2 linked regions of the Homo sapiens genome follow. The protein of the gene in region 2 interacts with the protein of the main gene of each other region in a pairwise test. Each region holds a gene or a part of one and is shown on either strand. Other genes may lie near its edges.

What was found.
Region 1: the proteins of WDR81 (region 2) and WDR91 interact in binary tests that used the Homo sapiens proteins (3 or more experiments, as listed by UniProt).

Annotation. Positions count from the first base shown.
Region 1 is NC_000007.14:135,194,527-135,201,526, reverse strand, and holds part of WDR91 (WD repeat-containing protein 91), read left to right. Parts: intron 1-3,375; coding exon 3,376-3,534; intron 3,535-4,407; coding exon of another isoform or gene 4,408-4,483; intron 4,484-5,189; coding exon 5,190-5,383; intron 5,384-6,442; coding exon 6,443-6,593; intron 6,594-6,900; coding exon of another isoform or gene 6,901-6,957; intron 6,958-7,000.
Region 2 is NC_000017.11:1,720,117-1,727,703, forward strand, and holds the start of WDR81 (WD repeat-containing protein 81), read left to right. Parts: upstream 1-4,587; 5' UTR 4,588-4,843; coding exon 4,844-7,587. UniProt on the Homo sapiens protein: Functions as a negative regulator of the PI3 kinase/PI3K activity associated with endosomal membranes via BECN1, a core subunit of the PI3K complex.

The DNA of each region.
Region 1 (7,000 bases), on a different chromosome or scaffold from region 2:
AATTGGTTGCTGTACCTGTTGTCATTATTACTGAAACGTTCATAGCATTATTCCTGTAAAATAGATGGCAAAACAGATGCAAAATAGATTGCTTTTGTATTGAAAGCCTGGCAGATACTCTCCAGGCTTTCAATATGAGTCTGGAGGCAATTTTTTTTTTTTTTTTTTTTTTAGTGGAAATAACTGCGAAACCACACTTCCCAAGCCCTTCTAGGATCTCTAATTACAATAGCCGGGAGGGCACATCCATAGCAGGCTTGCCTGGGCTGCTGCTTGGCTCACACAGCCTGTAGTTTGTACTCCATCCTTCCCACCAGCAAGAATTCTGCTCCTTTCACACCCACTTGGTGAGCCATGGAAATTACCTCATTATAGAGATAACTTTTAATCGGCTGTAATGTAAGGCACCAAAGCATCCACAAACTTCTGTGCTTGTGACTGTTATTAGTGTCAAATTACCTCCCAGTTACTGAGAAGTAAGTGGTCACAACCACTGCCCTGAAGGTTTTCCCCAAGGATCTTGGCAGTAAGGAGAAAGCCTGTCTTTCATTCTGGGATTTCTGTGTTATGAGGGCGTGTTTTCTGGGTAGCTTTGTTTAGCTTCAGGTGAGACCAAATTACTGGAAGTTGTTTGCTGCTCCATTTGGATGGCTGCCATCCTGGTAAGCTCTGTGAGGCTCTGGAATCCCTCATGACCTACTCATTCCACCGGAAATTAATGGGTATCAACTTATGTCTGTCTCCAGAGTGAGAAGGTCAAATGATAAGACAGAGGTTACCGTGTCTCTCCTGAACTGTAGCAGTCAGGTAGATTATGATAGAATATACTTTAGACTATTGGGATATTCTGTTATTTGAAGCCAGCAGTTAAAGACTATTATGAGGGTTGCACTTAAAATGAAATAAAACTTTCAATGAACAGTTATTTCATCTGTCCATCAGTCCATCCATTTGTTATTTAGCCAGTCATGAATGAGTGCCCAGCTTATGCGAGGCGTGGTGCTGGGTGCTAAGGTTACAAAGATGTGTAAGGTAGGGTCACAGTAGAAGAAGCTTCCAGAAGGGTGCAAGCTTCTCTGTGTGCAAGTGTCATTGTCTAGAGAGTACACAGTTCTGCCGGCATCTTTCACTCTCTCCAGCTCTTTACCCATACACAAGTGCTTGGCCAGAGTTTTATGGATTTGTTTGAAGGTAATTACTTACATAGCATTGTGACTTTACCCCTTTTTCCTTTGTTTTTATTTTTTAGCCTTTTATTTCTAAAAAATTAACAGTTGCCAGTAAGCATTCACTTGTTTTGTACATTTGTGGCTAGACACAAATTGGCCTTCACCTACTTATTAAAAAGTTTTGTGGACAACCGCATTCACCAGCTTTTAATATATTATTATCTTTTGTTATTCAGTGATTAACATAGATTTAAGGAGAAAGGAGAACCTATCCTCTTCTTTAAAGCAAAATCTGATAGGTCATGCTTAGGTCCATCACTGTCTTGGCGTAAACTGCCCTATCATTGTAAAGGTAGTTCTTCTCTGTACCAGATGCCTTCCTTGCTATCTTGACTTGTGAGGGAAGTATTACCTTTGTACTTCTCAGTGTTTTATTGTTTGCTCCTGCTGGGGAAGTGTTACAAGTGGCTTTCAAATAAGCCAGAGGAATTCGAAGCCTCCTCCTTCCATCAATATTCACCAATTGATTGAGCACTCTTTACTGTTGCTGAAAAAGGAAAAGACACCATTATCCAGTGGAGGGGCTGAATAAGGCAGGAAGGGGCCCATAAAGTGCCTGTCTCCCTCTGTAACAGTTCCCACCTTTGCTTCCAAGGCAGAATCCCCCTGTGACCCATGTAGAGCACGGCATACATGTAGCAGCACAAAATGTGGAAGCGGCACCTCCTGGACTGTGATGTGGCTGCTCAGTGTTTGCATTTTCAGTGATTTCTTCTTACGGGGGTTTCAGAGCCTTGTCTTGAAACAGGACACGACACAACTGCCTACCACCTCCCCAGATCTTAGCCTTGACAGCCAACTCCAACAGGCCACCTCCCCACTCCATCTCTCTGAAACTCTGAGGAGTGGACATTACCTCTCCGTGGCTTTTGTCCTCCCAGGACCCATACACAATTGTTATTGACACAATTCTGATACTTGGAATTAAATGTGTTTGTGGCTGATTGAGACAGGTTTACCATCCTTTCTTTGTTCACGGAAGTACTTGAAGTTTATAAACAGGCCAAAAATAGTAAATACCCTGCAGGTTAGTCATGGTTTGGTTCCAGGTAAGCTAATAGTCCTTTAAAATTTTCTTTTAACTGTTCACATGGCTGCAGGATTCCAAGGAATCCATGTTAATCATTTTAAATTATTTACTGTTGACATAAAAAATAACAAGTAGAAGAACTGGAAAGCAGCAGGTAGACTTTGGTTGAGTTTCTTCTCTTCACTTAGGGCTTGTGTAGAAATGGTTTCTTGAGAAGATTGGTCTCAAACCTGAGTAGCTGTTTGCATTCATATCTCTTTGCTAAGAGTGTAAAAAATGAGGGTGAGGGTGTTTGGCCATCACAATTTGTGGGTAAAAAGCTGGAAAAAGAGAGCCCTGCCCAGCAATCTGGAAAGATGTGGGGGTGGCAGCTCCTTTTAAGAGTTTCTAGATTAAGAATGGAGACTTCTTCTCTCTATACAGGTGGGGTGGGGATGATCAAATTCATCCCCTCTTGCTATAACTTAGCTGACCCTATCACTGTTGTTATGAAAAGGAGCCAGAAAATACCGGTTTATTTCCTGTCCGATTTATCTTTCTTAACATTCCTTGGGTTTTCAACAATTTCTGTTAAAAATTTCTGGTTTTCTAGTAATCATTTTCAAACACCTCAGTATTTGTTAATATTAGCTGGTTTAGTCCACACTTGGCCCAAAACAAGAGAGGGTACTGTGTTCCTTTTCCTTTTCCCTCCAGAGGTGATTGCTTGTTGCATAAATAATTTTTAGATTGCCCAAACATATTGTTGCTTGTAAATGTGTATAACACCAAGCGTAGGCCCCGGCCTGCCTTAGTCATCACTTAGTAAGTGCTGGCTCCTTCCCCTCAACTAGACTAAATTGTTCCGATTAGATCAAGATGACATCTTCCTCCAGATGAGAGATACCGCAGGATGAGGATTGCAGGTGACCTGTCCTCTTAACGGGTAGAGGACAGAAAGGAGGAGGTCATAGCAGGGGCTGACTATGACCTCACCTACATAGCTGAGCCAACACCATTTTAACCACCTGCCCCCAACCCACCACGCCCCCCCGCCCAGGGCTGACCACTCCTGGCATGCTTATCATGGCCTGGGCAGATGGGAAGAGACTTCACAGCCAGCTTCTTTTCCTCTAGGGCACCAAGGGAAAGGACCCGACGTCCGGAGCCAAGGATGGGAAGAGCCTCCTCAGCGGGCTGGCCACTGGGGAGTCCGGTTGGTCACAGCACCGGCAGCGGCGCCTGCAGGACCATGGCAAGGAGAGGAAGGAGCTTTTCTCCACAACCACTTCCCAGGTATGGGGTTGTCCTGAACACCCCTGGGGACACTCATGCAGCTACTGAGGAACACTGTGGGGGGTCTTCTCTTCTCTCTCTTCTGAGTTCTGCAGCTGTGCAGAGTGTGCTTTTGCTTAATTGGTTTCAATGGCTTGTATTTTGGTTATTTGGGTTCATCATTTGCCTGGCTTTTCTGTGGTCCATTTCTCCCATGCAGCATTTCCCTAAGTAGGGGCCAGAAAATGCAGGCCTCTAGAAGTGCTCTCAGAAGATGACTTCTGTGATTAAGCTGGCTTGGGAACCTTTGCATACTCATCCTTCCCTTAGGTTAATTGTGCTAAGCAGCCTGTGGTGGGCTCCTGGAGACCTGGTTCCCTCGGTTTCACCCAGTCACCCAGACTTGCTTGGTCACAGGATTCCTTTCTCCTGTGCTGCCTGAGGCCCAGCTGCCTGTATTGCTGCACTGAGGGCCATGTGCCCACACAGTGGGAGGCTGTGGCCCAGGCCCTTCTGTACTGAGCCCTGGGCTCTGGGGACTCCCCTCACTGGCCAGTGTGGGCCACAGCCTGCTCTTTGTGGCATTACAGCTGCTTCTGTTTCTGCCAGATACTCCCGACTGATGGCAAAGTCTAAGGTATTTACTGGTTCTCTTGCCCAAGTCACTGTCTTCACCATTTATCTCATAATTGGGGCTATTTGCCTGTTTTAAAGGTATTTCCTCATTAACAGCCTGGTACTGTGGTGACAACAGACCCCTAAGGCTCAGATCATAAGTTCTGGCATTTCAGGATTCAAGATGCACTTGGGGGCCACCCAGAGCCCCATAATGTCTGAAGTTCCTCTGTTATTTTTTTTTATTGTTGAACTCCTCCTCCTGCCTCTCTGAGGAAGCACTTGCAGGAGCATCCGGACCCCAGGGCTGGTAGAGAGTGCCCTGGCCGATGCCCCCAGCCTGGATTGTGTCTAGGTGAGCACCAGATGGTAGCCAACACCTGCTGTCCCAGGGACGTAGAGATGGGGCAGCCTTGGACCCCCAGTGGCCCTTGGGTCTCTGTCTTTCTTCCTGGCCAGTTGTGTCTGTTTCTTAGTTTCTCAGTGCCCACCTCCCAGGAGGGCTGGTGGGCCTAGGGGTGCACTGGAAAGGGGCCGGGCTTACCTCTTACCCACCCAGCTTCACATCCAATTTCTCCCCCTTGCCAGCCATATGACTTTGGGCAAGGGATTTGGCTTCTCTTTCAGTCTTTTAGTTTCCACAGCTGTAAAATGGGGAAGATAATAGCATCTCATTGTTTGAGGAGGACTAAATGAGAGAAATCTGTAAAATACTCAGCGCGGTGTGTGGCCTGCACCACGCATCCTCCGCCTGGCCTGTTGTCAAGGCAGATGTGTGTCCTGGGTCCCATCAGCTGTGTCACAGAGAGGCCACAGCCCCCTCTCCTTCAGCAGGGCCTGTGTGGAGCAAAGTCTCCAGGAAGGGGCTGTCAGGAGGGCAGGCCCTGCACTCTCCCAGGGTGAGCTGAGCACTACCCTCGCAGGTCAGAGCTCTCCTCTCCACTCTGTAATTACCGAGAACCCCGCAAAATGCTGCAGCCTAGGCCTAGACCCCCTGCGGTGTACACCCTGGTGTGGGGGACCCTTTCCTGGCTGACTTGTCCCCACCCTGCTTGTGACAGTGTGCAGAGAAGAAACCAGAAGCCAGTGGCCCAGAGGCTGAGCCCTGCCCAGAGCTCCACACGGAGCCAGTGGAGCCACTGACTCGGGCATCCTCGGCAGGCCCTGAGGGTGGAGGAGTCCGCCCCGAGCAGCCCTTTATTGTGCTGGGACAGGAGGAGTACGGGGAACACCACTCATCCATCATGCACTGCAGGTGGGTTGGGCCTGGGGCCAAGGAAACCCTGGGAAGCTCAGATTTTCAGGCAGTACACGTGGAGGTGTGGCCAGCAGGAGATGGCGGAGAATGGGGGCTTGGACGAGGGCCACAGTCATGGCAGTAGAGTCATGGGAGTCGGTTGGAGCTGCCAGTGGACTGGTCAGCCTGTCTGCCCTTTTTTTTTTTTCCTTATTGAGACAGAGTCTTGCTCTGTCACCTAGGCTGGAGTGCAGTGGCACGATCTTGGCTCACTGCAACCTTGCCCTCCCAGGCTCAAGCGATTCTCGTGCCTCAGCCTCCCAAGTAGCTGGAATTACAGATGCCTGCCACCACACCCATCTGATTTTTATATTTGTAGTAGAGACGGGGTTTCACCATGTTGGCCAGGCTGGTCTTGAACTCCTGGCTTCAAGTGATCTGCCCATCTCAGCCTCCCACAGTGCTGGGATTACAGGCGTAAGCCACCGCACCGGGCCTCTCTGCCCTTTCTAATTGTGTTTCTCTCAGTTTTAGGAACAAGTTACACTTTATTTTAGCCCCCCAAACTCACTCAATTTTAATTTGCTTTATGATGGTACTTTTAGGTAAATACCTGATTTGTAATTTACCATTTGTAAGTTTTTACTTAAGCACAGTATAAACCTTTCAAGAACAAACCCTGGTGGGGCATAATTTTCAGCTGTAGATGGGTTTCTCGTTTTGACAGCCCTGATGGCTCTTGGGGCCCTTGGGCTGTTCTGGAGTGTGAGTTGGAGGCTCTAAATCTCCAGAGACTGCAAATGGCCTCAGGGCAGGGCCCTGCAACTCTTGCTCACGGCTCTTTGCCCAGAATTGACCAAAAGCTCCGCACATGGTTGGCACTTAATAAGTATTTCTTAGACAAACGAATGAATGAATATTTCTAGAAATAGTCTATACCAGTCCTTTGAATGTAGACCTCTAGGGATTGTTTTTTTAAAACAGTAAGGAAGTCAGGAAAGTGATCATCTTGGCATTAGCAGAAGAGGATGGGGACTGAGAGGCCAGCTGACAGGCCTCCCTTTTCTCTCATCTCAGAGTGGACTGCTCTGGGAGGAGAGTCGCCAGCTTAGACGTAGATGGGGTCATCAAAGTGTGGTCCTTCAACCCCATCATGCAGACCAAAGCATCCTCCATTTCCAAATCACCGCTGCTGTCTTTGGAATGGGCCACCAAACGGGACAGACTGGTGAGTAATGGTGGCCTGTGGGGCCCGCTTTGCTGGCTCAGTGGAGGAATTCCCCAGGGTTCTCCACCGGCTGAGTCAAGACAGCCAAGCCAGTTCCCCTCCCTTCTCTCCATTATTGGGGATTCAGGGACACACATCCAGGACTGGCCCAGAAGGCTCCTGTTGTGGGAAGACAGGGAGGTTACCAGATTGACAGATGGAAATGAGCTGCAGGGGGCCTGGAACACACGGCTTCTTCCTGTTTGTGGTGGTCCGCCCTGGGGACCACCTGCCTGACTGCTGTCCCTCCATTTGTCTGTGTTTCCAGCTGCAGTTTCAGTGGGCGCCCTCCCGTGCCAGGCCCCACGGGAAGTGGCTTCCGCTGGTGAGGGGCTGGTGTTCTATTTTGTGGTTCCCATGGGTCTTAT
Region 2 (7,587 bases):
AGCTGGTGCACTACTTTTCTCCCTGCCGGATTAGCAAGAGCTGACCCCGCTCAACATGGGCTGACTGGTGGGGCAGCTGCAGCCTCTGTCCCTGACTATCCAAGACATGACCTCCCGGAAACCCAATACTGAGGCTGGCCAAGGGGAGCGGCTAATTTGGTCTGAGATTCCCCAGAGCCCAAAGGTGCTTGCATTGGGATTCAGGGAACACGCTTACTGGGGGCAGTGAGAGGGAAATTCCGGAAGAGAGCTGTTACAGACGTTACTTCTCAAGACATAGCCTGAAGGTTGCTGCATCAGAATTACCTCGCGTACTTGTTAAACATTTAGATAGCTGTATCTCACTCCAGACTCCTGAATTAGAATTATGCCCTAAAGGGCCGGGCATGGTGGCTCACGCCTGTAATTCCAGCACTTTGGGAGGCGGAGGCGGGCGGATCATCTGAGGTCAGGAATTTGAGACCAGCCTGGCCAACATGGTGAAACCCCATCTCTACTAAAAATACAAAAGTTAGCCAGGCGCCTGTAATCCCAGGTACTCGGGAGGCTGAGGCAGGAGAATTGCTTGAACCTGGGCGGTGAAGGTTGCAGTGAGCCGAGATCGTGCCACAGCACTCCAGCCTGGGCGACAGAGTCAGACTCCGTATCAAGAAAAAAAAAAAAAAAAGAATTATGCCCTAAAATTTGAAAACTACTGCCCTAGGGCTCAGATTGGGCCAGGGTTTGAGGCCCCAGGAATCCCAGTGCGCCAGTTCCCAATATTGCTAGGACATCTCTATTCTCGGGAGGAAAGGAGAATTTCAAGAGGTAAAATTAGGTACACTCAAGGTCACTGCTGCAGTGTAACCCCAGTACCGCTAGAGGGCAGGGCACACACAGACTTGCAGACAGAAAAAGTAGTACCTGCTCAATCTAGGTAAACTGAGACCAGCGCAAAGAACAGGTGGACCCAGCCAGCTCTATTGGTACTAAGAAGCAAGCACTACCTTCTAACCATCAAAACATATCCTCTGATTTCAGGTATTTATATCAAAGTTGGGGCTGGGCACTGTGGCTCACGACTGTAATCCCAGCTCTACTAAAAATATAAAATTTAGCTAGGCGTGGTAGCAGGCACCTATAATCCCAGCTACTCGGGATGCTGAGGCAGGAGAATCACTTGAACCCGGGAGGCGGAGGTTGTGGTGAGTCAAGATGGTGCCATTGCACTCCAGCCTGGGCAACAAGAGCGAAACTTTGTCTCGAAAAAAAAAATTAGCTGGGCTTGGTGACGCTGCCTGTAGTCTCAACTACTCGGGAGGCTGAGGTGGGAGGATCACCTGAGCCTGGGGAGGTCGAGGCTGCAGTCAGCTGTGACAAATCACTGCACTGCAGCCTGGGTGACAGAGTGAGACCCTGTGTCAAAAAAAATAAATAAAAAATCACTCGGGCACCATGGCTCACACCTGTAATCCCAGCATTTTGAGAGGCCGAGATGGGCCGATTGCTTGAGCCCAGGAGTTCAAGACCAGCCTGGGAAACATGGCAAAACCTGGTTACTACAAAAATACAAAAAATTAGCTGGATGTGGTGGCACATTCCTGTAGTCCCAGCTACTCAGGAGGCTGAGGTGGGAAGTTCACCTGAGCCTGGAAGGTCGAGGCTGCAGGGAGCCAAGATCACACTACTGCATTCTAGCCTGGGCAACAGAGTGAGACTCTGTCTTAAAAAAAAAAAAAAAAATCAGGCCGGGCACGGTGGCTCACACCTGTAATCCCAGCACTTTGGAAGGCCAAGGCAGGCAGATCACCTGAGGTCGGGAGTTTGAGACCAGCCTGACCAACATGGAGAAACCCTGTCTCTACTAAAATACAAAAATTAGCCGGGCATGGTGGCACATGACTGTAATCCCAGCTACTAGGGAGGCTGAGGCAGGAGAATCGCTTGAACCCGGGAGGCGGAGATTGCGGTGAGCTGAGATCGCGCCATTGCACTCCAGCCTGGGCAACAAGAGCGAAACTCTGTCTTAAAAAAAAAAATCTTCTTAAAAGGGGTGGTGAGGATTACACAAAACAGGGTATGCAAAATGCTTAACAGATGACTAGCTCCTGGTAATGCTCCATACAAGTTTGTTGTAAGTTACTACTGCCCAGGATCATATGACCAAGCACATGAGAGGCTCCAGCTACCCTTCAAGGAAGAGGAGACAGATGAAATCAGATCATGGCTGAGACATTCCTGTTTTCTCTCTCTTTTTTTTTTTTTTTTTGAGATGGAGTCTCACTCTGTTGCCCAGGCTGGAGTGCAGTGGCGCTATCTTGGCTCACTGCAACCTCTGCCTCCTGGGTTCAAGCGATTCTCCTGCCTCAGCCTCCCAAGTAGCTGGAATTAGAGGCGTCCGCCACCACACCTGGCTAATTTTTGTATTTTAGTAGAGATGGGGTTTCTCCATGTTGGTCAGGCTGGTCTTGAACTCCTGACCTCAGGTGATCTGCCCATCTCAGCCTCCCAAAGTGCTGGGTTACAGGCATGAGCCACCGCACCCGGCCCTCCTATTTTCTCTCCTATCAGGCCTAGTTTTCTTTTCTTTTCTTTCTTTCTTTTTTTTTTTTTTTGAGACGGAGTCTCACTCTGCCACCCAGGCTGGAGTGCAGTGGTGTGATCTCAGCTCACTGCAACCTCCGCCTCCCAGGTTCAAGCGATTCTCCTGCCTCAGCCTCCTGAGTAGCTGGGATTACAGGCACCCGCTGCCACACCCGGCTAATTTTTTTGTGTTTTTAGTAGAGATGGAGTTTCCCCAAGTTGGCCGGGCTGGTCTTGAACTCCTGACCTCATGATCCGCCCACCTTGGCCTCCCAAAGTGCTGGGATTACAGGTGTGAACCACCGTGACCGGCCAAGGCCTAGTTTTCCTAAGTGTCTTTATGGGACCCTCACACCTGTACACCAAACTCCTTCAAGAGGCAAACTCTCTCCTAAGAGGGAGACAAAAGAAACAGGGCCAGTGGTTTCACTGTAGACAATGGTCTATCTGTCCTGCAGATGAGTCAGAACTAAGACCCCTTGAGGAATCATGTTGCTTTGGTGCCGGCTGTCTGGTTTCTATTCCATATCCTGTGCCGCACCCTTCCCCCAGCCACAGTGACATCTGGAGGCTCTGACCACAGCTGGCAGGCTCTGTGGTACCGCAGAGGCCAATCTTCAACAGGAAGTCTTGGGGGAACATTTCTTCCCCCAAAACACCAGGCCTCTGGGCCTGGGCCACTTCTCTCCCTCAGACAGCCCAGGGTTTCGTTTTATTTTTATTTTATTTTATTTATTTATTTTTATTTATTTATTTGGTTTTATTTTTATTTATTTATTTTTATTTATTTATTTATTTATTTATTTATTTATTTATTTATTCTTTTTGACGGAGTCTCGCTCTGTTGCCCAGGTTGGAGTACAGTGGCGCCATCTCGGCTCACTGCAAGCTCTGCCTCCTGGGTTCATGCCATTCTCCTGCCTCAGCTTCCCAAGTAGCTGGGACTACAGGCGCCCCCCACCACGGCCAGGTAATTTTTTGTGTTTTTAGTAGAGACGGGGTTTCACCGTGTTAGCCAGGATGGTCTCGATCTCCTGACCTCGTGATCCAGCTGCCTCAGCCTCCCAAAGTGCTGGGATTACAGGCGTGAGCCACTGCACCCGGCCAGTTTTGTTTTTTAAAAAGCCGTGAGAGGGCTGTCAGGAGGCAGTGCTCCTGGGCAGAAAGAAGGCTGGCACCAGTTTCTAAGTCTCCATTCCGCCAGGCGGACAAGCCTCTCTGGCGGTTGTTGGTTATCACTTGTAAAATATAAACAGTAATAACTGTCCTCCCTACCTCACAGAGTGTGTTGCGAGGGCCAAATGGAATGTGACTGTTGAAGTACTTAGGAAAGTTAAAAAGCTCCTTCCTATGGAAGGTGGCATGGAGGCGCCGGGGGGATTCCATGTCAAAAGTCCCAGTTCTGGCCGGGCGCGGTGGCTCACGCCTGTCATCCCAGCACCTTGGGAGGCCGAGACGGGTGGATCACGAGGCCAGGAGTTCGAGATCAGCCTGGCCAACAAGGCGAAACCCCATCTCTACTAAAAAATACAAAAATTAGCCGGGCGTGGTGGCGCGCTCCTGACGTCCCAGCTACTCGGGAGGCCGAGGCAAGAGAATCGCTTGAACCCGGGAGGCAGAGGTTGCGGTGAGCCGAGATCGCGCCACTGCACTCCAGCCTGGGCGACAGAGCAAGACTCCGTCTCAAAAATAGACACAACAGAAGTCCCAGTTCTGCCCCTGGTTGTGCGGTCCGCACTTAACTAAGAGGCTGGCATCTCTGGGAACAGCCTCCGGGACCCGCGCGCTGGTGCGTGCTGGAGGGAGTAGGGAGGGGTGGGGCGGTAGGCATCGCCCTCCGCCGGGCCCGGCTGGAGCTGGCTGGAGACCCTTTCAGCCCCGGGAGGAAGCGGAGCCCAGACCGAGCCAGAGCGGAGCAGCGGGAGGGAGGGCGGGGAGGCCGCCGGGCAGGAAGCGGGGTCCCGCCCGGGCCTCTGGAGCCACGTGCGCTTGTTTCCGTGCTGGGGCGATCACGTGACCCGCGTCAGCTGACCCGTCACGGTGGAGCCCGGTGCTCGCGCCCGGCAGCCTCTGCCCCGCCGCGCCCGGAGCGCAGGACCCGCGGAGGGGTAAGCGCGCCCCCCGTCCGCCTCTTCGCCGCCGCCGGCTTCCTGCGGCCGCCTCCGCCCCAGCCCCTGTCCCGCGCCCATCCCAGCCCCGCCGGCCTGGCACCCCGGAAGCCGTCGCCAGCAGGGCCGTGGCTGGGCTCAGCCCCGCGCTGCCCCCGGGCGGCCTGGAGGAGATGGCCCAGGGCAGCGGGGGGCGGGAAGGCGCTCTCAGAACCCCGGCCGGGGGCTGGCATTCCCCGCCAAGCCCAGACATGCAGGAGCTGCTCCGGAGCGTGGAGAGGGACCTGAGCATCGATCCCAGGCAGCTGGCTCCGGCCCCGGGGGGCACCCACGTGGTGGCCCTAGTGCCTGCGCGCTGGCTGGCCAGCCTCCGCGATCGCCGGCTGCCCCTGGGACCCTGTCCCCGCGCAGAGGGCCTGGGAGAAGCGGAAGTCAGGACTCTCCTGCAGCGCTCTGTGCAAAGGCTGCCTGCCGGCTGGACGCGCGTGGAGGTGCATGGGCTGCGGAAGCGGAGACTGTCCTACCCTCTGGGCGGGGGCCTGCCCTTTGAGGACGGGTCCTGCGGCCCTGAGACCCTCACTCGCTTCATGCAGGAGGTTGCCGCCCAGAATTATCGCAACCTGTGGCGCCATGCATACCACACTTACGGCCAGCCGTACAGTCACAGCCCTGCCCCCTCAGCTGTCCCTGCCTTGGACTCAGTACGGCAGGCTCTGCAGAGGGTCTATGGTTGCTCCTTCCTGCCAGTGGGTGAAACTACCCAATGCCCTTCATATGCCAGAGAAGGCCCCTGCCCCCCTCGGGGCAGCCCTGCTTGCCCTAGTCTTTTACGGGCTGAGGCCTTGCTGGAGTCGCCGGAGATGCTGTATGTGGTACACCCTTACGTACAGTTCTCCCTACATGACGTGGTCACCTTCAGCCCTGCCAAGCTGACCAACAGCCAGGCCAAGGTGCTGTTCATTCTCTTCCGCGTGCTGAGGGCTATGGACGCCTGTCACCGCCAGGGGCTGGCGTGTGGGGCCCTGTCTTTGTATCACATCGCAGTGGATGAGAAGCTTTGCAGCGAGCTGCGACTGGACCTGAGTGCTTATGAGAGGCCCGAGGAGGACGAGAATGAGGAGGCCCCTGTGGCAAGGGATGAGGCGGGCATTGTGTCTCAAGAGGAGCAGGGAGGGCAACCTGGGCAACCCACTGGCCAGGAGGAACTTCGGAGCCTCGTGCTAGATTGGGTCCACGGCCGCATCAGCAACTTCCACTACCTCATGCAGCTGAATCGGTTGGCAGGTCGGCGGCAGGGGGACCCCAACTACCACCCCGTGCTGCCCTGGGTGGTGGACTTCACTACGCCCCATGGGCGCTTCCGAGACCTGCGCAAGTCCAAGTTCCGCCTCAACAAGGGGGATAAGCAACTGGACTTCACGTATGAGATGACACGGCAGGCATTCGTAGCAGGCGGGGCGGGCGGCGGGGAACCCCCTCATGTTCCCCACCACATCTCAGACGTGCTCTCCGACATCACGTACTATGTGTACAAGGCTCGGCGCACGCCTCGGTCGGTGCTCTGCGGACACGTCCGCGCGCAGTGGGAGCCCCATGAGTATCCGGCCAGCATGGAGCGGATGCAGAACTGGACCCCGGATGAGTGCATTCCGGAGTTCTACACCGATCCCTCTATCTTCCGCTCCATCCACCCCGACATGCCTGACCTGGATGTGCCAGCCTGGTGCAGCTCCAGCCAGGAGTTCGTAGCTGCCCACCGAGCCCTGCTGGAGAGCCGCGAGGTATCCCGGGACCTGCACCATTGGATCGACCTCACGTTTGGCTATAAACTCCAGGGTAAGGAGGCTGTCAAGGAAAAGAATGTGTGTCTGCACCTGGTGGACGCCCACACTCACCTGGCCAGCTACGGGGTGGTGCAGCTCTTCGATCAGCCACACCCCCAGCGCCTGGCTGGGGCTCCTGCCCTTGCCCCCGAGCCTCCCCTCATCCCCAAGCTGTTGGTCCAGACCATCCAGGAGACCACAGGCCGGGAGGACTTCACGGAAAACCCGGGACAGCTTCCAAATGGAGTGGGCCGGCCAGTTTTAGAGGCCACTCCCTGTGAGGCTAGCTGGACCAGAGACAGGCCGGTGGCAGGAGAAGACGACTTGGAACAGGCCACAGAAGCTCTGGATTCCATTTCCCTTGCTGGGAAAGCAGGTGACCAGCTGGGCTCCTCCAGTCAAGCGTCCCCTGGACTTCTCTCTTTCTCAGTGGCCTCAGCCTCCCGTCCAGGCCGCAGGAATAAAGCTGCTGGGGCAGACCCTGGGGAGGGTGAGGAGGGGAGGATTCTTCTTCCCGAGGGCTTCAATCCCATGCAGGCCCTGGAGGAGCTGGAGAAAACGGGCAACTTCTTGGCCAAAGGCCTAGGGGGCCTGTTGGAGGTGCCTGAGCAGCCCCGGGTCCAGCCGGCTGTGCCACTGCAGTGCCTACTCCACAGGGACATGCAGGCGCTGGGTGTCCTATTGGCAGAGATGGTGTTTGCCACCAGGGTGCGGACGCTGCAGCCCGATGCACCTTTGTGGGTACGCTTCCAGGCTGTCCGAGGGCTCTGCACGCGCCACCCCAAGGAGGTCCCTGTGTCTTTGCAGCCCGTGCTGGACACACTCCTGCAGATGAGTGGCCCCGAAGTCCCCATGGGAGCAGAGAGGGGCAAGCTGGACCAACTGTTTGAGTACAGGCCTGTCTCCCAGGGCCTGCCCCCACCCTGCCCAAGCCAGCTTCTCAGCCCCTTCAGCTCCGTGGTTCCCTTCCCACCCTACTTCCCGGCACTGCACAGATTCATCCTCCTGTACCAGGCAAGGCGTGTGGAGGACGAGGCCCAGGGGCGCGAGCTGGTGTTTGCTCTGTGGCAGCAGCTGGGCGCGGTGCTGAAGGA